Linked DNA regions of Homo sapiens: region 1 is linked to region 2. Evidence: fine-mapped expression QTL. A gene starts in region 2. The other region holds a variant in brackets. All regions are shown on one strand. Distances are between the middles of the regions.

What was found.
Region 1: its variant is fine-mapped to the expression of MAP3K5 in aorta (GTEx, PIP above 0.99).

Annotation. Positions count from the first base shown.
Region 1 is chr6:136,731,012-136,746,255 of GRCh38, reverse strand. All of the region lies in intron 1 of MAP3K5 (mitogen-activated protein kinase kinase kinase 5), which reads left to right. Among named protein-coding and RNA genes, the nearest start is that of MAP3K5-AS2, 45 kb to the left of the region's middle. RefSeq lists an enhancer at 1,064-1,233. The variant C/T (reference allele first, on the strand shown) is at 5,831.
Region 2 is chr6:136,784,418-136,799,661 of GRCh38, reverse strand. MAP3K5 (mitogen-activated protein kinase kinase kinase 5) reads left to right here and starts at 7,185. Exons shown (of 30, transcript NM_005923.4): 1 at 7,185-7,952. The coding sequence starts at 7,505. MAP3K5-AS2 (MAP3K5 antisense RNA 2) reads right to left here. Exons shown (of 2, transcript NR_134635.1): 2 at 13,608-14,247. RefSeq lists enhancers at 6,105-6,184, 6,555-6,614, 6,725-6,954, 7,745-7,814, 7,920-8,435 and 1 more and a silencer at 6,975-7,614.

The DNA of each region.
Region 1 (15,244 bases), 53 kb after region 2:
CCTTTATGTCTGGTTTTTTCATTCTGTAAACCTAGAGAATACTTATTAACTTGAACATTAAGCCATAAACCTGCTGTATTTACCATAGTTGGTATTTGTTCTATTGGGGAAGTCAAGAGTTAAGATATTAAATCATTTGAAGTATCTGACACTCTTCCAAAACTGCCACCATCCTAGTTCAAACATCATCAGCATTTCGCACCTGGACCCATGCAGCTGTCTCCTAACTAGTCTTCCTGCTTCTTCTCTTGACCCTGTTTCCAGGCTATGCATGCTCCTTACCAACTAACATCCCATAAGCAGAATCAATCTGGGTTTAAGGGAGAAGCAATGTTAGACATTAAGCTAACGTTAGGATGAGACTTTGGAACGTGACTAAGAAATCTCTGGGTTATGCTAACTCTCCTCGGAATTATCTAGATTAAATTTCTTGCTACCAAAAAAGACATTATCTATGCCTTTATTGAAAATATTGTTAAGTAGCAGATACAGATGTGAGCTCTTTTTCATGTCCACGGGCCCTTCTTCTGTGTGTGTAGCTGGAAGGCTTTGAACAAACAAGCAGCGGAAACATGCAGAATGCCTGCAGAAAAACTGAGGCACAGGCAGCGGCACAAGGAATTTTATTTTTAGAGTCCACCCTGTGAACAGGGTCTTGTGATGTTCATGGGCAGGATGGTAGGTGTGCTGGGAGTCACTGCATTCCTCTACTCCCAGCTCAAAGAAGGGGAGAAAGAGCCATTCAGTGGGGAGCGTTCCCAGCATCCTCCTCCCTGCCACAGCAGCCAGAGGCAGGGAGCTGGCCGGCCTTTCCTTTAACTCTTTGAGTGCCCTGACAAAACCTTTTTTCTAGGTCACGTCAGTGTTCTTGTATTTTCAAAAAGTGTATTCGTGTGTTGAGAGTTGAACATGGAGAGAAAATTAATTTTCTTCCCAACAATTTGTGTTGGTGAAATACATGATTATATTTATCCCATTTTTAATACTCTGATATAGGAAAGGGAAAAATAGTCATCTTCGTCTATTCAATTTAAAGGAACTTTTCTAAACAAGATACATAATAGATGCCGAAGCTCCAATTAAGTTGCTCAAAAAAAAAAAAAAAAAAAAAACTTTAATGACTGCCAAGTGTATGCCCGCTGCTGCCCTGTCAGTATTCTGAACAGGAAACATTATGTTCCAGCCAAATACCACTTACACTGGTCTTCATTTTAAGAGCAATTTATTTCCATTAATGTGAAAATGAATATTTGTTGCCAGAATTTCTAAGGAGCATGATAATGGATCAAAATGCTAAAATAAGCAGTCGGTGCTCTGCGGCATGGTTGATGGATGAGTGTCTTTAAATCAGCTTCCAAATCTGTGGTTCTTAGTCTTATTGAAAATTAGAATCACCTGATTCCAAAAATCCTGATGGCCACCCTACACCCCAGACCAAGTAAATTAGGATCTCTGGGCTGAGGACTCAGACTTGCTGCTTTTCAAAGCCCCCAGGTGATTACAATGTGCAGCCAAGGCTGTGAATTATTCTTTAAGTGACTAGGCTTTGCAGCTGCACTTCATTGAGCCGTAACTTCTCTAACCAGAACTCCCTGGTGTAGGTGCTGGTGAGGGGTGTGCAAGGTGTGGATACCTGTCCATGTTGGAGTGCATGGGGTTGGAAGTTCTACTTTCTGCTGCTGGATTGGGAGCTGCTGATTTCCAAACTGTGGTGGCATGGACTAGGTCCTCCTTCCAGCACAATCTCAAGATATCTGTGGGAGTTCTTTGGCTTCTGTCAAAGTGTCAGGAGCCTTCCTTATAACCCTGACACCATGAACAGAGACTTTTCTGGGCATGGGAGAGTCAAGGGTTCTCATATATACATATATATATGTATATATGTATGTACACACACGTGTATATATACATATATATGTGTATTTCAGAGCGGTTTTAGATTTACAGCAAAACTCAGCAGAAGGTACAGAGACTGCCCATAAACTCCTTACCCTCCCACAAACACAGCCTCCTCTGCTGTTAATATACTGATCTAGAGTGGTGCATTTGTTACAATTGGTGAACCTTACATTGACACATCATTATCACCTGATGCCCATAGCTTACATTAGGGTTCATTCTTGGTGTTGTGTATTTTATGGGTTTGGACAAATGTATAATGACATGTATCCACAATTATAGTAGTATATTGTACAGCATAGTTGCACTGCCCTAAAAATCTTGGTTCTCTGCCTATTCATCCCTCCTCACAACCCTTGGCAACCACTTATCCTTTTGCTTTTTCCATAGTTTCTCTTTTTCAGAATGTCACAGCCTTTTCATACTGGCTTCTTTCACTTAACAGTGTACATTTAAGTTTCCTTCGTGTCCTTTCATGGCTTGATGGCTCATTTCTTTTTAGCCCTAAATAATAATGAATTGTCTGTCTGTACCACAGTTTATTTATCCACTTACATCCTGAAAGACATCTTGGTTGCTTCCAAGTTTTAGCAATTATGAATAAAGCTGTTATACACATCTGTGTGCAAGTTTTGTGTGGACATAATAATTCACTTCATTTGGGTAAATACCAAGGAGTGCAAATGGTGGGTTGTATAGCAATAGTATAAACGTTTAGTTTTATCATAAACCACCAGACTGTCTTGCAAAGTGGCTGTATCATTTTGCATTCCCATTATCAATGAATGAGACTTCCTGTGGTTCCACATCCTTACTGGCCTTTGATGGCGTCAGTGTTTTGGATTTCAGCCATTCGAATAGGTGTGTAGTGGTATCTCAATTTTTTTTTTGTTTTTGTTTTTGTTTTGAGACAGAGTCTTGCTCTGTTACCCAGGCTGGAGTGCAGTTTCGCGATCTTGGCTCACTGCAACCTCCGCCTCCCGGGTTCATGCCATTCTCCTGCCTCAGCCTCCCGAGTAGCTGGGACTACAGGTGCCTGCCACCATGCCCGGCTAATTTTTTGTATTTTTAGTAGACACGGGGTTTCACCGTGTTAGCCAGGATGGTCTCGATTTCGTGACCTCATGATCTACCCGCCTCGGCCTCCCAAAGTGCTGGGATTACAGGCGTGAGCCACTGCGCCCAGCCGTATCTTAATGTTTTAATTTGCAATTCCCTGATGACAGATGATGTTGAGCATCTTTTGTTCTTTTTCTTTTTCTTTTTTTTTAGAGACAAGGTCTCTGTCACCCAGGCTGGAGTGCAGTGTCATGAGCATAGCTCACTGCAGCCTTCAGCTTTCTGGGCTCAGGTAGTCCTTCTACCATGACTCCTGGCCTTAAGTGATCCTCCTGCCTTGGCCTCCCCAAGTGCTGGGATTACAACAGTGAGCCACTTTGCCTGGCCCCATGAACATGTTTTCATATGCTTACTTGCTATCTGTATATCTTCTTTGATGAGGTATCCATTCAGGTCTTTGGCCCATTTTTTAATCTCATCGTTTGTTTTCTTATTTTTTAGTTTTAAGTATTCTTTGTATATTTTGGATAACACTCTTTAACAGATATGTCTTTTGCAAATATATTCTCTCAGTCTGTGGCTTGTCTTCTCATTCTCTTCACAGTCTTGACAATTTTTTTTGCTGAGCAGAAATTTTTAGTTTTAATAAAGTCCAGCTTATAATTCTTTTATTATGCCTTTGATATTGTATCTAAAAAGTTATGATGATACCAATGGTCATTTAGATTTTCTTCTATGTTATTTTCCAGGAGTTTTATAGTTTTTCATTTTACATTTAGAACTATGATCCATTTGAGTTAATTTCTGCAGAGGGTGTAAGGTCTGTATCTTTGTGTTTTTTTTGTTTTTGTTTTTTGTTTTTTTTTTCATGTAGAGGTTCAGTTGTTCCAGCACCGTTTGTTGAAAAGATTATCCTTGTTTCATTATATTGCCTCTGCTTCTTTGTCAAACATCAGTTGACTGTGTTTATGTGGATCTATTTCTGGGGCTTCTATTCTGTTCCGTTGATCTATTTCTGTAGTCTTTCACCTACACCACACTGTCTTGTTATAGAGCTTTAGAGTAAGTTTTGAAATCAGGTAATGTCAGTTTGTTCTTCTTCAATATTGTGTTGGCTCTTCTGGTCTTTTCCCTCTCCACATAAACTTAGGAATCAATTTGTCAATATCCACCAAATAACTTGCTGGGATTTTGCTTGAGATTGCATTGAATATATAGGTCAAATTTTGAAGAACTGACATCTTGACAACATTGAGTCTTCCTATCTATGAACATGGAATATCTCTCAATTTATTTAGTTCTTTTTTGGTTTCTTTTATTAGGGTTTTATAGATTTCCTCATATAGTTTTTATCCGTATTTGGTGAGATTTATACCTAAGTACTTCATTTTTGGGGGTGCTAATGTAAATGGCATTGTGTTTTTAATTTCAAATTCCACTTGTTTATTGCAGACATATAGAAAAGCAATTTACTTTTGCATATTAATCTTGAATCCTGAAACCCTGCTATAATTGCTTATTAATTCTAGGAGGGTTTTTGTTATTGTTGATTCTCTTGGGTTTTGTACATAGATGATCCTGCCATCTGTGAACAAAGACAAGTTTTATTTCTTGTCTCCATCAGTATACTTTTTATTTTTTTCTCATTTTATTTCATTAGCTGGGATTTCCAGTATGATGTTGAAAAGGAGTGGTGACAGGGGACAGCTTTGCCCTTTTCTTCACCTTAGTGGGAAAGCTAGTTTCTCACCATTAAGTATGATGTTAGCTATAGGGTTTTTTTTTTTTTGTAGGTATTTGAACACTTTTATTATTTTGATTTGACTGCAAATTATCAACATCTTATTCAGGCTTCTCCAGCTGTGAAGTTAGCAATTAGAAGTGGTTGTGATTGAAACATTATCTATAATTCAATTTTGAATTGATAATATATAAATCAATAATTTGAATTTTGCTCCCATACCAAATGGGCATGTGTATGTTTATTTGTATGCATAATAAATTGTATAGGAAAACGCTTAGAGTGAAATACCAAAATGGTTAGTATCTCCGTGTGCTAGCTAATAACAGGTCATTTTAATATGTATATTTATTTGCTACTAAGGACTAAATATATTATATTTTTGAGGGTTGTCAACCATTAAATTGTTTATCATTTGCCTGGATATAGTTTCATTATTTCTTACATTTAGTTAAGAGGCTCACATTGCTACTGTCATGGTCTATATCGACAACCAAGACAGTCTTATTGATGGAAAAGCAAGTGCATATATTATAATGAAATGTGGTGAGAACTATTGGGAATTCAACATGAAGAAGTAAATAGTCTCTCCAGGAGTGAAAAAAATTCACCATCTTAATGTGACCCTCATTTTCAAAACAAGTAAAAAATCTAGCTCTCGTACAGAGCAGTAGGATCCAATTAAATGGTAGAAAATTGCCCCTTTGTAATTTAGCACTCAAGCTCCTTCTCAGAAGTCTGGTTTATTTATGATGACAGGCACAAAGGGAAGATTCAGAGCAGTTTAAGAAAATAACTTATGTAGCACTTTTTCTAAAAGTAAGCTAACATAAAAACTCACTCGAGAATCCAAGGAAAAATGTCATCTGGTTAATGGTGGGATTATGGATGGTGGAATTTCAGGTAACATTTCTTCTTTTTTTAAATCTTTCTTTTTTTTTATTGTCTCAGTCTTGCTCTTAAATAAATCACACGGAGGTAGAAAGAGCTGGGGAGAAGTCTTTCAGATATGACGACCTGGTTTAAGCCAGTTTCCAAAGAGTATTTGGGACTTTTAGTCCAGGACTCAGGGGACACGTGGTCTGCATTATAAAACCAGCTCTGGCTTGTTGATGTCTAAAAGAAACTTGA[C/T]GTGACATGAATATTTTCAGTAAGAAATCATAAGTAAACAGCAGAAATTCAAGAAGACAAAGATCAGCCCTTGGAGGAAGATGTAGATTCCAAAAAAGGAAAACCAAGATTAAAGGTGAAAGAGGGGGAAGGTAAAAAGAAGGGAAAAACACTTCACCTCCCCCGTCCCCAGCCCCGCTGTGCACACTCCCACACAAACAAGAAATGACCAAAGAAAAGACGAAAAATTGCAGCAAGATGAAATGCAATTTACTGTGAAGAGCGAGGGCTGGAGTTTAAAAGCTGTCTGATTCTACTCCATGCCATTTGTAAAATTTCCATCATTACCTTGGCTGGGAGATTTGGAAAAAGCAGCTTGTGTCTGAGAATAATTTGAAGAACATGCAGGGCTGGGGTCTTCATCCTGTGGAAGCCCCGGGGCCAAGCCACCTAGAGTAGCAGCTGTAAAGAGGGGCTCCTGCTGAGTTTCTTGGCAGCTACAGGCCCCTGCTGCCACTGCCCATGGAAGGGACAGCTAATGGTGCAGGAACTGCCGCTTGCTTAGGGCCCAACCAGGACACTTGAGAATGAATGGGGGGATCTACTAGAAATGACAATGAGATCATACATATCATGGGATAACAGACATCTAAGACTGTTTGAAGCAAACTGGAATATTTATTCAGCTGGAAAATTTCTGCACCTTCTACGGGGCTTGCCATTAGCTGCCCTGGTCTGCCCCCTTCAGACCCCCCAAAATAGTGACTGCAAATGTTGGTTGTGTCCATATGGTCTAGGACCTCTCTTGAAGATGCTCTTTAACTACAGACTTTTTTAAGGCACTAAAGGGTCTACTGAAAAGAATGAAACTCATCTTACTGATTCCATACTTCCTGTTTATCGAATAGGAAAAGTATGAGAAAAAAGTACAGGAAATAAGAAAAATGTCTGTAAGTGATTGACAGTACCCTGGGGTGGGAGTGAGGGGTGAATGTCCCCCTGACCCATGGCCCACTCTCTAGTCGTGGCTGATGTTCATTGACACCTCTTTGTTGTTAAGCCCTTTCTGTGACAAAGACTATTGTTATTGTTGGTTGACAGGTGAGGAAATGGGCTCAGGGTGTTGAGGGCTGCACAGAGCAAGTGTGGATTTGGGCATTCTGACACCAGCCAGCTACACCCCAGGCATAGCAGGCAGGAGCGACACCATGGCCATTTGTAATGCCTGGTCAGCACTGACTACTGATAGGCCACATTTACTTCTACATCCCTTTATTTCTATATCTCCTTCAGACACCATTACTTTGTCAGGGGAGCTCCACTGACGAATCAGTTCTGTCTGTTGTACTGTTCAAAATGCCCTGTGTCATGTCGTCAACACACTTACCACAGTGTGCATTTGTTTTTGTACGTTTATTTGATTGTCTCTTCTCTTGCTAGATCATAAGCTTTCTGAGGGCAGGAACCTAGTGTGCATGGGTGTGTGTGTGTGTGTGTGTGTGTGCACGCGTGTGTGTGTTTGGATGACTTTTGTATCCCTTGGACCTTAGCACTTAGTATCCCTTGGCACTTAGTAGGGATTTCATGAACATTGGCTGCACTGATGACTGAACCGGTCCCTGCTTTGGAGCTGACGTGGCTACAGGTTCCTTAGGCCATCAGCCGTCTGTTCCAAGTAGAGCTAGCTGTATGTGGTACCCTGACTGTTCTCACCAGCACTTCAGCTCATTAGCTCTTTCTGTTTCTGATGGCTAATATACATATAGAAGCGAATGCTACAAATTCAGGAGCTTATATAGTCTCCTTGAAATGAATAATTTTGCTAATGCCTTTGCCAGATCTGCATTTTGTGCTCCTCATTGCCTCCAAATACTGTCTGTTGCTGTGGTGATGATCTGTGGACTCTTGGGCTGAGTGCCAGTTGGAAGACTCTTTTTATTATTCAGAAGCCTTTTCCACAGGTTGTCTTCTGTTTGTTTGTTTGTCTCTCATTTTAGCAATGTGAATTAGAAGCTGTCTCCTTACCATCAAATGCCTCCTCTGCCGGGTATTTCTGTTAAAACAGTCAGGTCCCTTGGAGGACACAGACAAGCAGGTCCGCAGCTATAAGGTCTCAAGTAGAGAGAGCTTTGCCAGGAAGAGGTACCGAAACTCCCCTTGGACCAGGGAAGTAGGGGATCCAAGCGATACGTTACAGGAGAGGATGCATTTAGTCGGGCATGGTAGAATGCATAAAGACACAAGTAAAATGAAATTTCTTTCTCCCTAATAAGAAAAGTTTTTACTGAAAAGTGTTCCCAAAAAATGATTGTGCAATTTATTTTTCTCCCTGTAAACTTCCTGTGGAAAGACCAGCTGGGCAGAGCGATAAGCCATTTCTCATTCGGTGGGTGGTGGTGTACATGTCCATTCTTAGGTAGTGGAGCAATTTTTTCTGGTAAAAAGAAACTCCTATATTATGCAATTGCAAAGCAGCCAGGAATGTCCCTTCTTCCCAGGCCCTGCATCCTGAAATTCTACCACTTCTCAAGGCTTACTGTGAAGCTGTTGCCCTGAATGGCCTTCTCCATTACTCCTGTAAGAATCAGCCACTCCTTGTCCTCTGCTCCCAAAGAACATTTACATCTATTTCATTTGACTTTGCACTTCTGCTGCTCACATGTCCAGCCATTGCACTTGAAGGTTATCAGCCCATGAAGGGCTGATGCTGATTTCTTTGACCCCTTCTCAGTACTTTGCACAGTATAGACAATCATGTGTGTTAAAATCAACATGTGGGAGAACAGAGTAAAGGGAGTTCTTAATTCCATGGTGCTATGATGGATGGAAGCTGAGGCGAAGAAACCGGAGCCTCCTGGGCAGCGTGATAAGAAGCCGTCAAAGGGCTCCTTGGAGGGACTTAGTATGTGATACATGGCGGGGGCTGCCCTCTCCTTTCCTTTCTGGTCTGTTGTCTCTATTCAGCAGGCTTATCTCATTTTCCCCATTGTGGGGCTGGTGAGGGTCTTTGGTTCCCTGTCTTCATCTCTGTGTGGCTGGCCTTTTTTTCAACTTTTATTTTAGTTTCAGAGGATACATGTGCAGGTTTGTTACGGGGTGAATTGAGTGTCACTGAGGTTTGGTGTACGAATGATCCCATCACCCAGGTGTAGTGAGCATAATATCCAATAGGTAGTTCTTCAACCCTCGCCCCCTTCCCACCCTCCCGTCTCTAGTATCCCCAGTGTCTATTCCTATTTTTATGTCCATGTGTACTTAATGTTTAGCTGTCATTTACAAGTGAGAACATGCAGAATTTGGTTTTCTGTACTTGCAGTAATTTGCTTAGGATATTGGCCTCCGTCGATAGCCTTCTTTTAAAGAGACATTTATATAATCACATCTAAGTTTATATATATATATATATATACACACACATATATATATGTAAAATTAATTTGTCACATTAAAAAAATAACAACATGGCTGTACACAGTGGCTCATATCCGTACCTGTAATCCCAACACTTTGGGAGGCTGAGGTGGGAGGATCACTTGAGTCCAGGGGTTTGAGACCAGCCTGGGCCAATTAGCAAGACACTGTCTCTAGAAAAAATATGTAAAACATTAACCAGGAGTGGTGCTGCATGCCTGTAGTCTCAGCTACTTGGGAGGCTGAGGTGGGAGGATCAGTTGAGCCCAGTGAGCTATGACCATACCATTGCACTCCAGCCTGAGTGACAGAGTGAGACTCTGTCTCTAAAACAACAACATTAGTTTTCCTAGAGTATGCGAATTCCTTTACTGATAGATTTAATCAATTGGAAGAAAGAAAGAAAAAAGAACCAGACTCTTTCATTATAGTCAGTGAAGTCCAGCCACCTGTCTGTCAGCAGTTAAAAGATCAGTTAACAATGAATAGTTTTAATCTTATTCATTTCCTCTAATAATTCTCAAGAAAGAAGTCTCAAACCCCCTTAAATGGATTGTTGGACTTAAATGGAATGTCAACACGTACGCTAGGAATGAAATTATTTACTGGCAGAATCATTTATACATCTGTCATGTCAACAGAATTACAGATACTATTAGAAGAAGTAAATTTGAACAAAAACTATTGCACATTTTGACTAGATGAAATTATTAGGTGTCGAAAGTGAGCTTAACAGAGTAGAAAGAAAGGGTATGGCCTCTTTTAGAGATGTTGAATCCTGACTGTGAGAGGTTTCCATTCGTTGACACATTAAGAATCTTGGAGCACTGTGGAGCTCCCAGGCGCTCACCCACACTTCTTAGATCCAACTGGATTTAAGACCACGAGAAATGACAGCCATAATTACAAGAGGAAAACCCTCCAAACTAGCTTGCTTACCAGGATGAGCAACGATTTCTGCCCATAAATAGTATGCAACTGGATTTCATTTAATTTAGTTTCTACAGGAGTAGAAAGAAAAAAAAATACTGATTTTCTTTCTACAGCAATAATGGTATAGTGTTTCTTACTTACAATTATATTTCTATGGCATGCAAGATAATGCTTTTTTGATAAGGAATGCATACATCATGTGGTGCCAGACATTAGCATTCTTTATTTTTTAACATAGGATGAAATTATCATGCTTTTTTTGTTTGTTTTTTTAGAGATAGGTTCGTGCTCTGTCACCCGGATTGGAGTACAATGGCACGATCATAGCTCACTGTAACCTTGAACTCCCGGGCCCAAGCCATCCTCCTGCCTCAGCTCCTTAGTAGCTGGGACTGCAGGCACGCACCACCACACCCAGCTATTTTTAACACTTTTTATAGAGATGGGGTCTGACTTTGTTGCTCAGGCTGGTCTCAAACTCCCGAACTCAAGCGATCCTCTGCCTCAGCCTCGCAAAGTGCTGGGAATTACAGGCTTGAGCCACCTCACCCGGCCTATCATGCTACATTTTTCTTCTCTGAAAGATAAGGACTCCTAACACAGTACCTTATCATACTTAAAATAATTCATTTCTTGATATCATCAAATATCCTGTCAGTTTTCAAAATTTTGATTATCTCATAAATGCCATGATTTTTTAAAGTTTACTTTTGTAGAATCCAACCAAGGTCCACACATTACAGTTGACTATGTTCCTTAAGTCTCTTTTAATATCTAATTTCTACTTTCATCTCCTCTTCTCCCCTGTGATGTTTTTGTTAAGGAATTCAGGTCATTTTTCCTGTAGAATTTTCTAGAGTCTAAGTTTTTCTGTATCACCATGTTACACTGCTTTAATAACTATTAATGCTTATGTAAACATAATTCATATAAATGACAGTTATTTCCCTAGCCAGAGTGAGAAATACCTCCTCTTAATCAGAACAACCTCAAGCATGAGTTAAACTACCATAGCCATTTTTGCTACTGAACATCATCAGAGAATGTGAAGTTCTCCCTGTCCTCTTTCTGTTTTCCATGTGAAGAGGTTGTAGAGGTATAGGACGATTAGGTAAGAGTATGTCACTCAGCATCCACATCTGTGAGGAACAGTTGGATTTTCTTCAAAAATTATCACAAATCAACTCCTATAACCTTATGTAACTTAAACAAGTGCCAATTAAATGAGGCAGATTATTGGTTTGGGTTGTGAGGGAGGATGCTCCCATAAGAATCTTACAGTTACAAAGGGCTACTCTGTGTGACCGAGGAACTTCACTGAAGCATAAATGAATGAAGCTTTGATGGTTTAATTAAAACTAAATATGAGAGACCAAAAAAACAAATGACATAGACCTTAACCACAATAAAACTGTAATAAGCTTCACAAAAGCCTGTTCATATATTCATGAGCAGCCTTTTCAGTATCTAATTAAAATAGATTTATTACTTAAGGACTGAAATGTTTTATACAAAATGAGTTTATAGAGATCTAAATTTATGCATATAGACTCAAACCCAGCACACCTTCATGAAATATAACCATTTCAAGGAGAAAAATAGTTTGCCGTGGCGATACAGAAATTTTTACCAACAAACTAGCCTCCTATCCCATTGCCTTTTTTTTTTTTTTTTTTTTTTTCCGAGACAGAGTCTCGCTTTGTTGGCTAGGCTGGAGTGCAGTGCCATGATCTCTGCTCACTGTAACCTCCGTCTCTCGTGTTCAAGCAATTTTCCTGCCTCAGTCTCCCAAGTAGCTGGGATTACAGGTGTGTGTCACTGCACCTGGCTAATTTTTTGTATTGTTAGTAGAGACAGGGTTTCACCATTTTGGCCAGGCTGGTCTCGAACTCCTGACCTCAGGTAATCCACCTGCCTCAGCCTCCCAGAGTGCTGGGATTACGGTGAGGTGAGCTACCGCACCCAGCCCCCATTTCTATTTATAATGTATAGCATGTCCCTGTCACATAATAAACTTTACGGTTCATTTTGACTTATACATTTCTTATATACTCTTTATAGGTCATTGACCTGTTGTATTGCTGTTACCATGACATTAAAACATAAATTTTTGAATGGATAGGCAAAGTCTGGAGGATTTTTAGGGCAGAGGATTTTTAGGGTGTTATGGTCTCATACTCTGTATGATCCTATAATTATGATACTTTAGTGGTAGATACATATCATGATAAATTTATCTAAACCCAAAGAATGTACAGCATCAAGAGTGAACCCTAATGTAAACTATGGACTTTGTGTGACTATGATGTGTCAATGTAGGCTCATCAGTTGTAAAAAATGTACCACTCTGGTGGGGGATGTTGACAATGGGGGAGGCTGTGTGTGTGTGAGGGCATCAGGTATATGGGATGTCTTTGTACCTTCCTCTCAATTTTGCCATGAACCTAAAACAGCTCTAAAAAAAAAGGTTTTTTTTGTTTGTTTTTTGTTTTTTAACTTAAAGACAAAAAAAAGTTAAGGCATAAATCAGGCTCTGTTTTAACTTGGAAGGAGAATAACACTTTTTTGGGTAGGACCTATTTGTACTTTTCTAATAAGCAAAATTATGTAGGAGACTGCTATGCTCATATCAGGAAAATATCTCTTCATAAAGTACTTGGTATGCACCAGAAGATATAAACTGTGATTTACCCACTTTTTTTGTGAAGTGATATGAGGGATTCACTTGAAGACAACCCAGTGACAGTATTTGCAGGGCTCCCTCAATAGCACTTACTAAACCATCATCGAATGCTGTGTGCTTGAAGCTGGACGTGGTGGCTTATGCCTGTAATCCCAGTACTTTAGGAGGCCAAGAAAGGAGGACTGGTTGAGACCAGGAGTTCAAGACCAGCCTGAAACATAGTGAGACACTGTATCTACAAAAAATAAATAGAATTAGCTGGGCATAGTGGTGCATGCCTATAGTCCTAGGTACTTGAGAACTGAGGTGGGAGGATCGCTTGAGCCCAGGAGGTCGAGGATGCAGTGAGCCGTGATTATGCCACTGTACTTCAGCCTGGGTAACAGAGCAAGACCCTGTCTCAAAAAAGAAAAAGTACTATGTGCTTGAAAGTGGATTTTTTGTTAGTCCAGTCCATTTTGTGACCAAGAACATTCATTTGTAAGATTGGGATTTTAATGTCTATTTAAGGCTTTTGCCTGTGGCCACTAAGCAGAATAAAGTTCAAATCTAGTCTAGATCTTCCCTCTTTTCATATTTTCCTTTACCTCTATTGTAGGCAGATAAGAGTTCAAAAAATGGTGTTTTTGATGCTTAGGAGGCTTACATCTTGCTTCTGTTGCTGTAGTTGTAAGCGTTGTTACTATCACAAGTAAAAGGAATGCTAAAATGAATTCCTTTTAGTGAAAAAGAAGACAAATTGGCGTCACGACATGCAGAAGCTCAGGTGGTGCTACTTTCAGGCACATTTCCAGTGATGTCACTCAGGCGTGTTTCAGCTGTCCCTGGAGAGGGCTTTCCTTTCTGTTGGCTACCAGCTGTCTATCAGCAAGTCACTACCTGAAGTGAAGGAGGAGATCGGTGTTCTTCCTTTCACCTCATCACTTCCTTGTCTTTGCCATTAATTACTTCCCTCCTTGTTTTCTTTTTGTTTGTTTGTTTGTTTTGTTTTGTTTGAGACGGAGCCTCGCTCTGTCACCCAGGCTGGAGTGGAGTGCTATGATCTCAGCTCACTGCAACTTCCACTTCCCGGGTTCAAGTGATTCTTCAGCCTCAGCCTCCCTAGTGGCTGGGACTACAAGCGCCCGCCACTGTGCCTGGCTAGTTTTTGTATTTTTGGTAGAGACGGTATTTCACCATGTTGGTCAGGCTGGTCTCGAACTCCTGACCTCGAGTGATTTGCCTGCCTCAGCCTCCCAAAGTGCTGGGATTACAGACGTGAGCCACTGCGCCTGGTACTTCTCTCCTTCTTACCTTTAAAGTATCCCTTTTCCCCCATGGTTGACTTTTCTCCTCTGTCATAGAACCCAACCCATCTGTCTCATCTGAAAATACAGAGATCGCCTCCATTAATTAGCACTCCCTTTAAAATCTTTCTCTTTTTTTCTTCTTTCAGCTTGACTTCAAAAATGCGTACAATCTCCACTTGTTCTAATAATGTTCAAGTACACCATTCTAACACTAAAAGCTTTTAGATCTTTCTGTCCCATTAAAGTATTGTCTGATCTCTTGCTTTCCTTACTGATTGTAAAGGTGCCTACCATGGACCTTGGAAAACGTTTATCACCTTTTGTTCTTTGCCAGTCTTTGGAGAATCCTTTGGGCTCATTCCCTCCATTTCCTCATCTTGTATTCAGCACCTTTTGTTCTGTTGTACTTACCTTCGTTATCATGCAGCTTCTTTATAATCCTTGTGGTAAGCTAAAATTTGTCCCTCACCTCCCCTGCCACCCTAATATCTATGTCAGAACTGGAACATGTGCATGGTACCTTATTTGGAAAACGAGTCTTTGCAGATATGATGAAGTGAAGGATCTTGAGATAAGATAATCCTGGATCATCTGGGTGTGTCCTAAATGCCATCACAAGTGTCCTTGTAAAAGAGGCAGAGGGCGATTTGACACCACATGCATACACATCACAAGCCAAGGAGTGCCGAAAACTTAGAATCTTGAAGGGGCAAGGAACTGATTATCTTCTAGAGCACTGCCTACACCTTGATTTTGGACTTCTGGCCTCTAGAACTGTGAAAGAAGACATTTCTGCTGTTTTAAGGCATCAAGCTTGTAATAATTAGTTACAATGGCACAGGAAACTAATGCAATTCTCTTTTAACATTCTGGGCAAAATGATCGGTTAGAAATGAGTTAATTTTCACAAGGCAAACATGCCAGAGTAACCAGCACCTAGATCAAGAAGTAGAACTTTACCAGCACCCCAGAAGACCCCTTCAAGCCCCCTTTAGCCATGGCCCATCCTCTCCAAGGCGTGCGCCATTGTGACTTTTAATATTGCAGAATCACACGGTGCCTAGTCCTTTGTATCTGGATTCCTCCTCCCAAGAATGCATTTGTGAGATTCATCCATGT
Region 2 (15,244 bases):
AATGTTGCCCTCTTCCACCACTGCAATTTATTCATGCAAGAAAGTGAGCCATTTGTCTTATAGAGTTTCCTACAGTCTAGATTTTACTCATTGCATCTCCAGAGTATTTGACCCTGTTTTTATGACTTTAATATGTCCTGAAATTAACTGTTGAACCCAGGCCTTGGGTTCTGGGGCTTTGATAGATTCATGTCCACTGTTTTTGGGATGACTACTTCATGGTTGATGGTGTGTTCTTTCATCAGGAGGCATGCAATAATCTGGTCATCTCTCTTTTAATGATATTAGTGACTATTAATGATTGATATGTAGGCTGGGTGCAGTGGCTTATGCCAGTAATCCCAGCACTTTGGGAGGCTGAGGCAGGAGGATTGCTTGAGCCCAGGAGTTCTAGACTAGCCTGGGCAACATTGTGAAACCCTGTCTCTACCAAAAATACAAAAATTAACTGGGTGTGGTAGCACGTGTCTGTGTCCCAGCTACTAGGCTGAGGTGGGATGATTGCTTGAGCCCAGGAGGCAGAGGCTGCAGTGAGCTGAGATGGAGCCACTGCACTCTAGCTTGGGCAATAGAGCCAGAACCTGTCTCAAAAAAAAAAAAAGATTGATATCTGAATCCAAATTCATTAAGAGTTACAAAATGGTGATATTATAATGACATCAGGCTTTTGTATGCATTAGCTGGAATATTTCTGTAAAGAAAAAGTTCCCTTATTACTACATGGTTGCCCAGTGGTATTTTCATTCTTTACACATTTCAATTCAGTATAAGAACTGGAATCTTAACTAAATACTTAAAATAGCACATTGGAGCTTCAAAGGATTTTCAGTGGAATCTAATTCAACACTGTGTTTTGTGGATGAAGAAACAGGTCCAGAAAGGTTAAATTAGTTTTCTAATTTCTAAACGCTCATTAGTAGTTATCAGAGTCCCAACAGGAAACAGGTAGGATAATTTGAAGTGGGTTTATTTACAAAAAGACTAATTACAAAGCTGTGGAAGGGTATAAGGAGGCTTCAAGGAATTCTTCATGAGCTTGGGGCCAGCAACTTTATCATTTCTAGGTGCCAATAAACAACAAAGCAAGGGACAGTTATGAGACCCTGTTAGAAAGTGAGTCCCATAGGAGCTGTCACCTTGGGAAGAGCAATAACCTTCTGTTGAAGAACACAGCCAGCCTGTAGTGACTCATACAGAGTGAGTCCAGGAGAGAAATACCCAGCTCCCAATGTCCTTCCTCCTGCAGATCCCTGCCTGGACTCCCCACTGACCAAATCCAACTGATAAACAGAAAGGAAGGGAGCCCATTGACTTAATTCATAGCCTCCCAAGACAGAGACTCTGGGGGATATAAATGGAGAGTGAATCTAGAGGGGAAAATCAGAAACAGATGGCAAAAATTTCAGTTCACATTCTTGCTCTGATTCCACCATGCTACCGTGCATTCAAATATTTGCTTACATTTACAGATCTTATATTTGTAGAAATAATTCATGGCCCAAGATGATGTCATCTTCCTCTGGAGTGAATTTTGTTTCTCAAATGCAGGGAACTACCTTAATACAATTTTAGGGTTTGAGACTTCTTTCTGGGTTACTCAGATGAATGGAAGCAGGATTGCTGTCCACGTACGGGCCATCTAACCTATAGTTCACTCTTACTTGTAGGGTATATCATCTTTAATTTTGTCCTCAAGATGTTATCAAGAATTCAGTTCAGATAAACACAGGCACAAAAATCCTCAACAAAATACCAGCAAACTGAATCTAGCCGCACATCAAAAAGTTAATTCACCCCGATCAAATAGGCTTAATTCCTAAGATCCAAGGTTGGTTCAACATATGCAAATCAATAAATGTGACTCACCACATAAACAGATTTAAAAACAAAAACTAGATGAATATCTCAATAGGTATGGGAAAAGCTTTTGATAAAATCCAACATCCCTTCATGATAAAAACCCTCAACAAACTAGGCATCAAAGGAACATACCTCAAAATAATAAGAGCCATTTATGACAAACCCAGAGCTAACAAATACTGAACAGGCAAAAGCTAAAGACATTGCCCTCAAGAACAGGAACAAGACAAGGATGCCCATTCTCAGTATTCCACATAGTACTGGAGGTCCTAGCCACAGCAATCAGGCAAGAGAAAGAAATAAAAAGCATCCAAATAAGAAAAGGAGTCAGATAATCTCTCTTCCCTGAAGATAAGAATCTTTTTTTTTTTTTTTTTTTTTTGAGACAGAATCTCACTCTGTTACCCAGGCTGGAGTGCAGTGGCACGATCTCGGCTCTCTGCAACCTCCATCTCAAGTAGCTGGGACTACAGACTACATGCTCAGCTAATTTGTTTTTCAGTATTTTTAGTAGAGATGGGGCTTCACTGTGTTGGCCAGGCTGGTCTCAAACTCCTGGCCTCAAGTGATATACCCGCCTTGGCCTTCCAAAGTCCTGGGATTACAGGCATGAGCCACTGCGCCTCATCCCCTGAAGACAAGATTCTATACCTAGACTCCACCAAATGGCTCCTAGAATTGATAAACAATGTCGGTATAGTTTCAGGATACAAAATCAATGTATAAAAATCAGTAGCATTTTCATATACCAATAACGTTCAAGCTGAGAGACAAGTCAAGAACACAGTTCCATTTATAATAGCCACACACACACACACACACACGCACACAATCTAGGAATACATCCAATCAAGGAAGTGAAAGATCCCTACAAGGAGAATTACAAAACACTGTTGAAGGAAATCATAGATGACACAAACAAACAGAAAAATATTCCACGCTGATGGATTGGAAGAATCAATCTTGTTTAAATGGCCACACTGTCCAAAGCAATCTACAGATTCAATGGTATTCCTAAGAAACTACCAACATCATTTTCCACAGAATTAGAAAAACTATTCTACAATTCATATGGAACCAAAAAGGAGCCTGTAGAACAGCAGGAAAAAATAAAATAAAATAAAATAAAACCCCAAAAGAGCCTGAATAGCTAAAGCCAAAGCCAGAGGCATCATATTACCTAACTTCAAACTGTACTATAAGGCAACAGTAACCCAAACAGCACGGTACTGGTACAAAAACAGACACTCAGACTGATGGAACGGAGTAGAGAACTCAGAAATAAAGCCGTACACCTACCGCCATCTGATCTTCAACAAAGTCGATAAAAATAAGCAATGGGGAAGGACTCCCTGTTCAATAAGTGGTGCTGGCTAGCCTTATGCAGAATAAAACTGGACCCCTACCCATCACCATATACAAAAATTCACTCAAGATGGGTTAAAGATTTAAATGTAAGACCTCAAACCCTAGGAATCATAGAAGAAAACCTAGGAAATACCATTCTAGACATCGGCCTTGGGAAAGAATTTATGACTAAGTCCTGAAAAGCAATTTGCAGCAAAACGAAAAACTGACAGACGGGACCTAATCTAAACAGCTTCTGCACAACCAAAGAAACTATGAACAGAGTGTGGTGTTACGATATATATTGGTTTTCATCTGTGGTTTCTGGCTTGTAACTCCCATAACCCTCGTTATAGTCTTCTGTTATGTTGAGTGTGTTAGGCCTCAGAGGCAGGCCTCTAATTTTTTCCTGCTCTCCTTTTACCTGCTAACAACCCCCCACCTTTCTGACTGTGGGTCTTAAGACCTTCCCAGGAGAGGGTCCCATTGGATACACATGGACATAAAGATGGTAACAACAGACACTGCGGACGGGAGGGAAGGAGGGAGCAAGGGTTGAAAAACCAACTGTTGGGTGCTCTTTCTACTACCTGAGTGACAAGAACAATCGTACCCTAAACTTGAGCATCATGCAATATATCCATGTAACCTGCACATGTACCCCCGAATCTAAAATAAAACTTGAAATTACTTTAAAAAAAGCACTATTTTGCACAGCTCAGTGATTTTTAGGAATTCATGTGTGCCTTCACAGTGGGAGTGACTGTGCTCCTCCCAGAGTATTTTCTTCATGTACTTCTTCAAATACCTCCTACACTTCAGAAACTTCTCCAGATTTTCTTTATACCCTTCAACCAAAACAACATGCTGCAACAGCATGAATGTAGAAGCAGAAATGAGAATCCACTGTCATCTATTAAGCCAGACATTAAAAAGATTTGTGAAAATGCACAACGGTGTCACCATTCTTTTTGTTTTGTTTTGCAAAATACCGTTATTTTTCATTAAAAAAATTCACTTCAGCCTTTCAGCTGCCTAATTCAGATCCACAAAAATCCCACAGCCAAAGGGAACCCTGACTGTAGACTCACCCTCTGGATTCCTGTCCTTTCTTCCAGAATCTTGCCAGCTAGTTCCTCATTATCTCATAACCCTATGCTATGGAACATAAATTACCTAAACCGTGCCTTTTAGGTAGAGGGAGAATCTCTGGACCAGCTAGAAGCAGAATTTCAACATTGTATTGGGGTTTGGGTGCCTAACATAAAAAACATATTTAAAGTTAATAAATCAAAAAAGCCAGCAAAGTAAAACAAAAAATAAAAATTGTGTATGAAAATGGCTCTGAAAGGATCTGGAAGGAAAGCACAAAGTGAGAGGGTATAAAAAGTTACAGCTTTGGAAAATAGCTTGATATATAATTTCAGATTTTGTATTTCTACAGTAAAATGCTACTTGAGCATTTAGGCGTTTTAGTTTTCCACACATGAACCTCATCGATTTCCAGAGTTTGTGGTTCTTGGTGAGGATAGCGGGGAGGATTATCTTACTCCTACAAGGTTTTGGAGGTTTGACAAGTTGTTGAAAATATTAAAAGGCACATAACTATTACTAGCTCAGCAACATTTTGTTTCAGTATAATCACTGATTCACTACCTATTTTACTATTGATATTAATTCCAAAAGCTAGTGTGGGTCACATAGATTCCATTTTACATGAAGAATATAAAGTTTCCTTACTAGAAATTTACTTCTATTATTTTATACACCTTTAGAAAAATCTAATGTCACATTGATTCATTGATACAGTTGTGTAGCGGCTAGGTGTTTTTCCTCATGACTATTTCCTTCCTTCCTTTAATTATTATTTTTTTTTAAGATGGGGGTCTCACTATGTTGTCCAGGCTGATCTTGAACTCTTGGGCTCAAGCAATCCTCCCACCTTGGAGAAAATTAAAGAACTCTTTCCTTTAATTCTTTTTCTTTTTCTTTTTTTAGATGGAGTCTCGCTCTGTCGCCCAGTCTAGAGTGCAGTGTCGCCATCTCGGCTCACTGCAACCTCCACCTCCCGGGTTCAAACGATTCTCCTGTCTCAGCCTCTCGAGTAGCTGGGATTACAGGCGGCTGCCACCACGTCCAGCTAATTTTTGTATTTTTAGTAGAGACGGGGGTTTCACCATGTTGGCCAGGCTGGTCTTGAACTCCTGACCTCAAGTGATCTGCCCGCCTCGGCCTCCCAAAGTGTTGGGATTACAGGCGTGAGCCACTGCGCCCAGACTTTCCTTTAATTCTTTACTATTCAGCTATTTTATCCTTCCTTCTTACCCAGTTTGAAATGTAATTCATGGCTGGGCTGGGTGGTTCACGCCTGTAATCCCAGCACTTTGGGAGGCCGACGCGGGCATATCACCTGAGGTCAGGAGTTAGAGACCAGCCTGGCCAACATGGTGAACCCCACACCCCTCCCCCTCCCGTCTCTACTAAAAATACAAAATTAGCCTGGTGTGGTGGCGCATGCCTGTAATCCCAGCTATTCGAAAGGCTGAGGCAGGGGAATCGCTTGAACCCGGGAGGCAGAGGTCGCAGGGAGTCGAAATCGCGCCATTGCACTCCAGCCCGGGCAAGAAGAGCGAAACTCCGTCTCAAAAAAAAAAAAAAGTAATTTACATTTTCTTCTGCCTTTTTCACAGGACTCACTAGTCTCAGTTCCTGGAGATGGGAAGTACAAAACCTGTTTCTTTACTCAGTTGTAACTTGCACTGGCTTTCCTAACAATTACAGCATTCTGGGGTTCTCTGGGAACTTACACATCTGTTCTTTGCTCCCCAAATAAGCAGGTACTTTTTTTGATTGCTCTTAAACAATCTGGGTATTTCCCTCCCGGCCTCGCGTGATGCAGTTTAAAAAATAGAATAGGTCACGTTATTCCCCTGTTTCATCTTGTTGATAATTTGTGGAGTCGGGTAGAGACTCCATCTTCTATCTTAAGTATCTGGCGCTTGTGGGGGAATTAAGATCCTAAATGAGAATACTAAGTCCTTCGGCAGTTGGCACTAATCAATTACTCATTACTGATAACGGAATGAGCCACTGGAAATTTTAAAAGGAAAAGTACATGGGAGAACCTGATCAATTTAGCCAGCCACTTCTGGAGTGCCACAGTCACTAATGAAGCAACCTCCAGTGCAGGCCCTGGCTCCAGGGCGCTATGTACAACCTCCTGCCTCGCGCAACGTGGGTCTCCCGGAGCCTATCCTGCCAGCGCCGCGCACGGTCCCAGTCCACCAGGCCGCCAAGGCCCGGAGGGGGGCGCCCTAGTCGCGGGGAACACTGGAAATGCTTCAGGGGCGGACTCCGAAGACCGAGTATTGCCTCGAGGGACTTTCTGCGCCACCCCGTAATCGCTTGCGCTCCAGGTCTTCGTAGGTGGGGGCCGGGTGGGTGAAGACTGGGACCCTATGCCACGCGCAGCACTCAGAGGAGGGCTGGGGTCCCAGGGCCGCAGCGCGGTCAGTTCAGTCCGGGCTCGAGCTTCCTAGCAGCGCCCTCCTTGGGGGCTGGCCCTGACCCTCGGTGCCGCTACGAGTGGGTGGCCAGAAGCTGGTGGTGGAGAGGGAGAGCGTCTGCAAGGAACGACGAGGCTGGCGCCGGGACCACGCGGCGGAGGCGATCGAAAGAGAAACGAGGCCAGGCAAGGAGGAGGAAATCCACCCGATGAAGGCGAGCTGCCGCCTAAGAGGGAGGAGGGTCCTTTCGGCTGCCGCTGCTGCTGTTCCGGGACGCCGCCTGGGGAGCCAGCCCGCTCGTAAGGTGCGCGCCAGGTAGCTCCGCACCCAGGGGGCGCCCTTCCTGGCCCCTCCCAGAGCGGCCGGGACGGAAGGAGCTGCGCGGCGCGGCGCGGCGCGGCGCGGCGGGTGGCGAGGGCGGGCTGCACCCCGAGCGCGGCGCCCTTGAGCTGCACCGCGGCGCAGGTTTGCGAGCCGACTTGTCAGCCGGCCAAGAAAAGGAAGCTCCGTCCCTTCCCGCTCACCCGGCTTCCCCACCCCTTGTACTCTAAACTCTGCAGAGGGCGAGCGGCGCGGCCACGGAGGCGCCGAGGAGGAGCGAGCCGCCGCCGGGCAGCGGCGTGCCCTCGGGGGAGAGGGCGCCGGAGAGGAGGCGGCGGCGCGGCGGCGAGGGCGCGGCGCGCGATGGCAGCTGCTTAGCCCGGCGGGCGCGGAGCAGCCCCGAGCTGTGGCTGGCCAGGCGGTGCGGCTGGGCGGGGGACGCCGCCGCCGTTGCTGCCCGGCCCGGAGAGATGAGCACGGAGGCGGACGAGGGCATCACTTTCTCTGTGCCACCCTTCGCCCCCTCGGGCTTCTGCACCATCCCCGAGGGCGGCATCTGCAGGAGGGGAGGAGCGGCGGCGGTGGGCGAGGGCGAGGAGCACCAGCTGCCACCGCCGCCGCCGGGCAGCTTCTGGAACGTGGAGAGCGCCGCTGCCCCTGGCATCGGTTGTCCGGCGGCCACCTCCTCGAGCAGTGCCACCCGAGGCCGGGGCAGCTCTGTTGGCGGGGGCAGCCGACGGACCACGGTGGCATATGTGATCAACGAAGCGAGCCAAGGGCAACTGGTGGTGGCCGAGAGCGAGGCCCTGCAGAGCTTGCGGGAGGCGTGCGAGACAGTGGGCGCCACCCTGGAAACCCTGCATTTTGGGAAACTCGACTTTGGAGAAACCACCGTGCTGGACCGCTTTTACAATGCAGGTGCGTGTGTGACCCCTTTCCCATCCCGCGCGGTCGGGACCCGCGTTTAATCTGGCGGTCTTCGGGGCATTTCATTTTTCTGGGCGGGAAGCATTTACTTCTTGCCCCACTTTGGGGGCAGCGAGCGCCGCTGCGTGACTGCTCCTGTCGCTCGCCGCTCCGGAGAGAGCGTGTGTGCTTGTGCAAGAGTCTGTGTGTACTTGTGCGATAGACCTATGGATCCACCCACCGCCCAGCGCTGGAGCCCTGGGTCCATGCGATCGACTTGAACTGTTCTCCAGCAGTGTGAGATATTTGCCCCAGTCAGTCTTTCTCCTTTCAGTGTCTCGGTTTCGCTTCTGTGAGGTTTGGTCCCTGTTTTCTTTCTGCATATACCTGTGACCGTTTTAGATGAGGTTCTCCTTTTCTCTGTGTAGTTTTGAGAGTACGGGAACGATGACATACCATGCACGCAGAGTGTAACTATATTAATTTGCATGCCATGTGATGATCTTCCCAACTCACCTTACCTTCGATAAGTTTTAGTAGCTTGAATTTCCTCTCACCAACCCAGACTTTGAAGTAATTACAGTGCTTCCAAAGGCAATAACATTACAACTTACACTGAACTTGTGTGTTATCTTTGTAAGGATTTTGGTGAAAGAACCAGGGCCTGTTTTTTATTACCCCATAAACCATGGTGGGCTAGAAAGTTTGTAATTTAACATTGTCTAAAACACCTGTATGCTATCCTAATAATAAGATTAGTTTCGCCATTAAAGTGATTGCTAGCATAATCCATGAAAGAAATGTATCTTTCAACCTATCTCAAATTTCAGAAAATGTTAAGGCAGTTCTAGTAACTGAAGCACTTAGCTGTTAGCAAATGTTAGGAATAATACCATATTATGGAAATTAACCTTTAGTCCCCTGTACGTCCAGTGTTGAGAATATATACATATTTATGTTTACATTTGTGGGTAAAAACTTGGTTTAGTAGTTTCAAAACAATACACTTCTTGCATTTGTGATCACATAAAAGGCTTTATTTTCCAATCTTGTTTTCAATTCTGATTCTCTTTAGTGTCTTCCAAACACCTGAAGTGGGCTTATGTCAGTTTTGGAATTCAGCCAAAGCTGAATATTTTGAGAACAACAAGACCTTCATGTTAAGGAAGCCAGACTAAATAAACTAGGACTTTCTCGTTCTGGTATTTTTAAAATAGTTTTGGTCTTCATAACTGAGCATGGCTATAATATAGCTTGATTCTTTGGGTAGCTTGCTATAAAAGTTACATCAACATAACTTTTCTAAAAATTGTAGCACTCTTATTTTTGGATTATAATTTGGAAGAAACTTCAAAGAACTAAAAGATATGAGAGGAAAATACCCAACTGAACACTTGAGCCTATTTTTATTGCACTGATTGGGCGTTTTTTTCCTAGGGCTCTAGAAAAAAAATGTTAAACTCTAAGCTAATTTGAAAGAAACTTTCCTAACAAGGCTTGGTTTCTGTTATTCTCCAAATACTGTCTCTGGGAAAGGGAGAGAGAATGATTAGAAGGGAGCTGAAGTTTGAGTGTATTTCATTGAATCCTCCAAACAAGCCTGTGAAGGAAGTACTTACCTTCTTAGGTGAGAAAACCCAGGGATCCCTAACTGGCCCTAGGATTCATAGGGAGTAAGTGGCCAATGCAGGATTCCACTTCAGGTGGCTGACCCTAAAAGGTTGTGCTTGGGCCAGGCGTGGTGGCTCACGCCTGTAATCCCAGCACTTTCGGAGGCCAAGGCGGGTGGATCACCTGAGGTCAGGAGTTCCAGGCCAGCCTCCTGGCCAACATGGTGAAACCCTGTCTCTACTAAAATGACAAAAATTAGCCAGGCATGGTGGTGCACACCTGTAGTCCTAGCTACTCAGGAGGCTGAGGCAGGATAATCACTTGAACCTGGGAGGCAGAGGTTGCAGTGAGCTGAGATTGTACCACTGCACACTCCAGACTGGGTGACAGAATGAGACTCTGTCTTAAAAAAAAAAAAAAAAAAAAAAAAAAAAAGAGGTTGTGCTTGGCCCTTGCTTCCTCCATTTAGGTGGGCTGAGTTACTCTCAGAATCAAGGGAAGCTCCCTATCTTGGAATCATGTGAGTGAGCTGGCAAAGATCTTACCAGGCATTTAGGTGTGTATGGAATAGTGGGGAGGGCATGCTCTCGGAAGCCTCTTTTTCCTGCGCCCACTCTGTCCCTTCGTACTGCTTCTTTCAACCTAGACAGGTCTCAGTTTAACCCCTGCCCATCTGGATGGCATGAACTCCCAGGATGAGTGCCCTCTCAGTCAGCATGAAAGCATGAAAATGTGACAGAATGAAGGTAGTGCATCAGTTTTATCCAAACCCTTTGTTTCTATTTTATTTTATTTGTTTTAGAGACAAGGTCTCACTCTGTTGCCCAGCCTGGAGTGCAGTGGCATGATCATGGTTCGCTGCTAGCTCGAACTCCTGGGCTCTAGTGATCCTCCTGCCTCAGCCTCCCGAGTAGCTGGGACTACAGGCATGAGCCACCACGCTGGGCTAATTTTATTTTATTTTACTATGTTTTTTTTGTAGAGACGGGGTCTTGCTATGTTGCCCAGACAGGTCTCAAACCTGGCCTCAAGCAGTCCTCCTGCCTTGGCCTCCCAAAGTATTGGGATTACAGGCGTGAGCCACCGCACCCAGCCTCCCATCTTTAAGTTTACTTGTACCCAATGTTTAGCTCCCACTTATGAGTGAGAACATTCAATATCTGGTTTGGTGTCTTTTTGGTAGAACAATTTATTTTCCTTTGGGTATATACCTAGTAATGGGATTGCTGGGTCGAACGGTAGTTCAGCTCTTAGTTCTTTGAGAACTCTCCAAATTACTTTCCACGGTGGCAGGACAAATTTACATTCTCACCAACAGTGTGTAAGTGTTCCCTTTTCTCTGCAGCCTCGCCAACATCTGTTATTTTTTGACTTTTTAACAAAAGCCATTCTGACTGGTGTGAGATGTTATCTCATTGTGGTTTTGATTTGCATTTCTCTGATGATTAGTGATGATGAACATTTTTTCATAAGTTTGTTGGCTGCTTGTATGCCTTCTTCTGAGAAGTGTCTGTTCATATCTTTCGCCTACTTTTTAACGGGGTTATTTGTTGTTTTGCTTGTTGATTTGTAGACCTTTCTTAAATGCGTAGTTTGTGAATATTTTCTCCCATTCTGAGGGTTGTCTTTGTACTCTCTTAATAGTGTCTCTTGTTGTGTAGAAGCTCTTTAGTTTAATTAGGTCCCATTTGTCATTTTTGTTTTTGTTGCAATTGCTTTTGAGGACTTAGTCATAAATTCTTTCCCAAGGCTGATGCAGAATGGTATTTCCTGGGCTTTCTTCTAGGACTCTTATGGTTTGAGGTCTTACATTTAAACCTTAATCCATCTTGAATGAATTTTTGTATATGGTGATAGATAGGGGTCCAATTTTATTCTGCATATGGCTAGCCAGCACCATTTATTGAATAGGGAGTCCTTTCTCCATTACTTACTTTGTTGACTTTGTTGAAGATCAGATGGTGTTAGGTGTGTGGTTTCATTTCTTGAGGTCTCTTTCACAACTTCTCAACTCTGCCCTATTACTCAAGAGCAGCCATAAACAGGACCTAAACAAATGATCATGACTATGTTCCAACCAAACGTTATTCGTGGACACTGAAATTTGAACTTCATATACCTCACAAAGTATGATTTCTTGTTTTATAACCATTTTAAAATGTAAAAACCATTCTTAGCTTGCAAGCCATACTCAAAAACAGGTGGCCCACAGGATTTGGCCCCTGTGCCATGCTGACCTTTGCTCTACACCCATGACCTGTACTTGAAAGTTGAATTTTTATGAGATAGTGGGAAGAACATGGTCCCTCATATTAGATCCGAGTTTTCATCCCAGCTCTGCTGTGAACCATGTAATTGTGAGAACGGCCCTTCATTGCCTCCAGTGGTGTTTCTTTGCCTGTAAAATTGACCAGGGTTAGAAGTGAAGGGGGAATTGAACACATTTTTTTAGGATTCCCTTATTTAATCCTGTGAATTTACAAAGGCAAGGTGGCATGGGATGCAGGCACAAAGCATTAGAACAGCATTTTCAAGGTTTGGCTTTGGGTCCTGATTCTTTTCTAACTTGGAGCAAGTCATTTAAAGCCTCAGAAAAGAGTGGAGTGTTGGAATAATTGGTATCTGAGATTCCCTCCAGCTCTCAAATTCTGTACTTTAAAATGACAGCATTATTAAGACAAATGAATCATTTCAGCTCGTAGAGATTAAATGAACTGCTTGTATATATCATATTCCTGCCCCTGAAGAGCTCAGAGTTGGTGGGGAGGGCAGACCAATGCCTTTGCCTTAGCAGTGCCTCTGTGCCAGGATGCTGGGCTCCCAGGAATCAGCTTCAAAAATCAGATTGAGGATACAGTGGGTTCAAGGGTAGCTTCTTATGCTTGTTTTTTGTTTGCTTTTTTCCTTTTTGTGGAGAATGGGGTCTCGCTATATTGCCTAGGCAGGTCTCAATTTCCTGGGCTCAAGCTATCCTCCTGCCTCTGCCTCCCTAAGAGCTGGGATTACAGGTGTGAGCCACCACACCTGGCAAGGGGTAGCTTCTTAAAGGTGGTGACACCTGAAGTGAAATGGCAGGGTAAGCAAGGAGAGCCTAATGAAGGTCTCAACGTTTACATGGGAAACAGTGATGTTCGAATAGCTCAACCTAACGGAGTGAGTAAGAACTTATTCCCAGCTACTCGGGAGGTTGAGGTGGGAGGATCCCTTGAGCCTGGGAGGCTGAGGCTGCGGTGAGCTGAAATCGTGCTACTGCAGTCCAGCCTGGGTGACAGAATGAGACCCTGTTTCAAAAAAAAAAAAAAAAAAAAAAGAAGAACTTAAAGTTTGGTAACATTTTTAATAAACTTTCCCAATCTTTGTGTACTGATGTCTTTAAAAAGAATAGGTTGCAAGTTAAAGGTTTTCACTGATTTTTTCTTGATCTGTTTACTATTTAACTATATTTTAATTTCTTCTTTGACTACAGTTGTCATTTGCTTTTTCATTTTCTTTCTGAGGTGAAGCTAATGCTCTGTCAATGCTTTTATGAAAATTCATCTTATTTACGTATACAAGAGACTGTCACTCAGAGACAGCAAAGCCAAGCTGACAATACCCCTTCTTTGCCCTCTGCATTGTAGGCAGAAAATTCCGTAAAAGCTAAGAGATGTCAATACTATCGTGTTGCCCTGTGTAGGTGGACAGATCCCAAATGGGAAGCTTTCCAAATTTTTTTTTTTTTTTTTTTTTTTGAGATGGAGTTTTGCTCTTGTCACGCAGGCTGGAGTGCAGTGGCTCGATCTCGGCTCACTGCAACCTCTGCTTCCTGGGTTCAAGTGATTCTCCTGCCTCAGCCTCCTGAGTAGCTGGGATTACAGTCATGTGCCACCACATTCCAGCTAATTTTTTTGTATTATTAGTAGAGACAGGGTTTCATCTTGTTGGCCAGACTGGTCTCAAACTCCTGACCTCAGGAGTGATCTGCCTGCCTTGGCCTCCCAAAGTGCTGGGATTACAGGCGTGAGCCACCGCGCCCAGCCCTAAATTTTTTTTAAAAGACATCAATGCTGCTATTCTCTTGTTTTGCTTATGAAAACACTGAACCGTGAAGAGGTTATATTCATTCATTCAGGTTAAATGTTTGAAGGTTCTTGCTTGGAGCACACTTTTCTTAGAAACAGTATTGCACATGGTGGTCAGATTCTGGGACTAGCCTGTAAGAAGCCTGGTTAACACAGTTTATGGAACCATTCACCATTTTAAACATTCGGGAAAATTCTGTTTCTGAAACCTAAAACCGGGACTTTTCTTGTATTAGAGCAGTGACTTTTGCTTTCATCCACCTCTGAGTAGCATCTTGGCCAGATGTAGGAGAAGCATCAACTTGGAGTGGTGAAGGTGGTGGGGCTGTGGTGAGGAAGGGGACAAAGGGAAGATCAGGTGGCTGCAGGGAGAACCGGGATGCTGTGTGAAGGAGGAGGCAATGCCAGCAGGAGATCCAGCAACACTTTCACTTCCTTTAGGCTTCTTCCCTTTCTACTTCTGGCCGACGTAAGACCCAGGGATGCTGCTGTGCTCAAGGCCACCTCACTCCTTCAGTGGACACAGGGTTAGCTTGGCTGCCTGCTTCCCATTTCCTTACCACCAGCCTTCACATCCGCCCGGGCCTTTCAGCTTGGCTCACTGCAGATTGCAACCGCTTACTCAGCCTTTCACCCTGTAGCAATCATAGGTAACAGGAAGGAAGCACATGCTAGTTAAAATTGTAAGAACTTAGCTTTTCTATTCTCATCCATGGTATGTTCCCACTTTACTTGAGCTTGTGACAAAAGTCGCCCATGTGTTAATATGCCATCTTGCTGGAGAGGCATCTGACCTTGCCAGGCTTTGGCTCCAACTTGCTTCCAGCAAAGCTCCTTAGGACTTCTAATCTTATTTGGTAAAACAATAAAACAAAACAGAACATAACCTTGTATCCCATCTATCCCAGATGGAGAAGTTCTTGAAAATTGTCCAGCCCACTTCTGCATTTCTACTTTCAATATACTTTCCGAGTATATTGTCTCATATATTTTGAAGGAGAGAGTAAAGTCTGTATGTCCTAAATAGTGGTTCCCACGAACCAGTTAAAAAAATTTGGAGGACTGACATGTGTTTGCCAACATTTAAATTTTTCCAAGTAAGAGTATTATAAGTAGAGAAAGTGAGGAAAATCGAGAGAGAGAAAGAGAGACAGAGAGACAAGAAAATCAACAACCAGCCACCTATTGCCATGATTTCTTAAAAAGGAAAGTTTTATGTTAAAAAAAAATTAGTGGGGGACATAACCTTAGAATGAAGGGCAGATCTTCACATACAGAAAATGTGTGCAAAAACTCATGACTTGTTATTTATTTTTCCCATTTCTCCAAGGATGAGTGAAAACTTTATCACACCAGTCAACAGAGTTGTGTTTGAGAGCCTCTGATTGGAACCGCCCTGCAGCCCCTTCCCACCTTTCAGCCACTGCTTCACGTGAGAAACGAACCTTAGTAAAATTATCAAAAGAGCAAACGTAGATAAACTCATAAGGGAAAACTCTAGTTAGGGAAGGATTTTTTAAAAAAATCCCAGTGGTGTCCAACACATGGTTTTTCTCTGAGCTGTTCACGTTCCCTGGCACACCATTGTAGCAGCTGCCACCCACCGCACACAAACTGACAGCACTGCTGCTT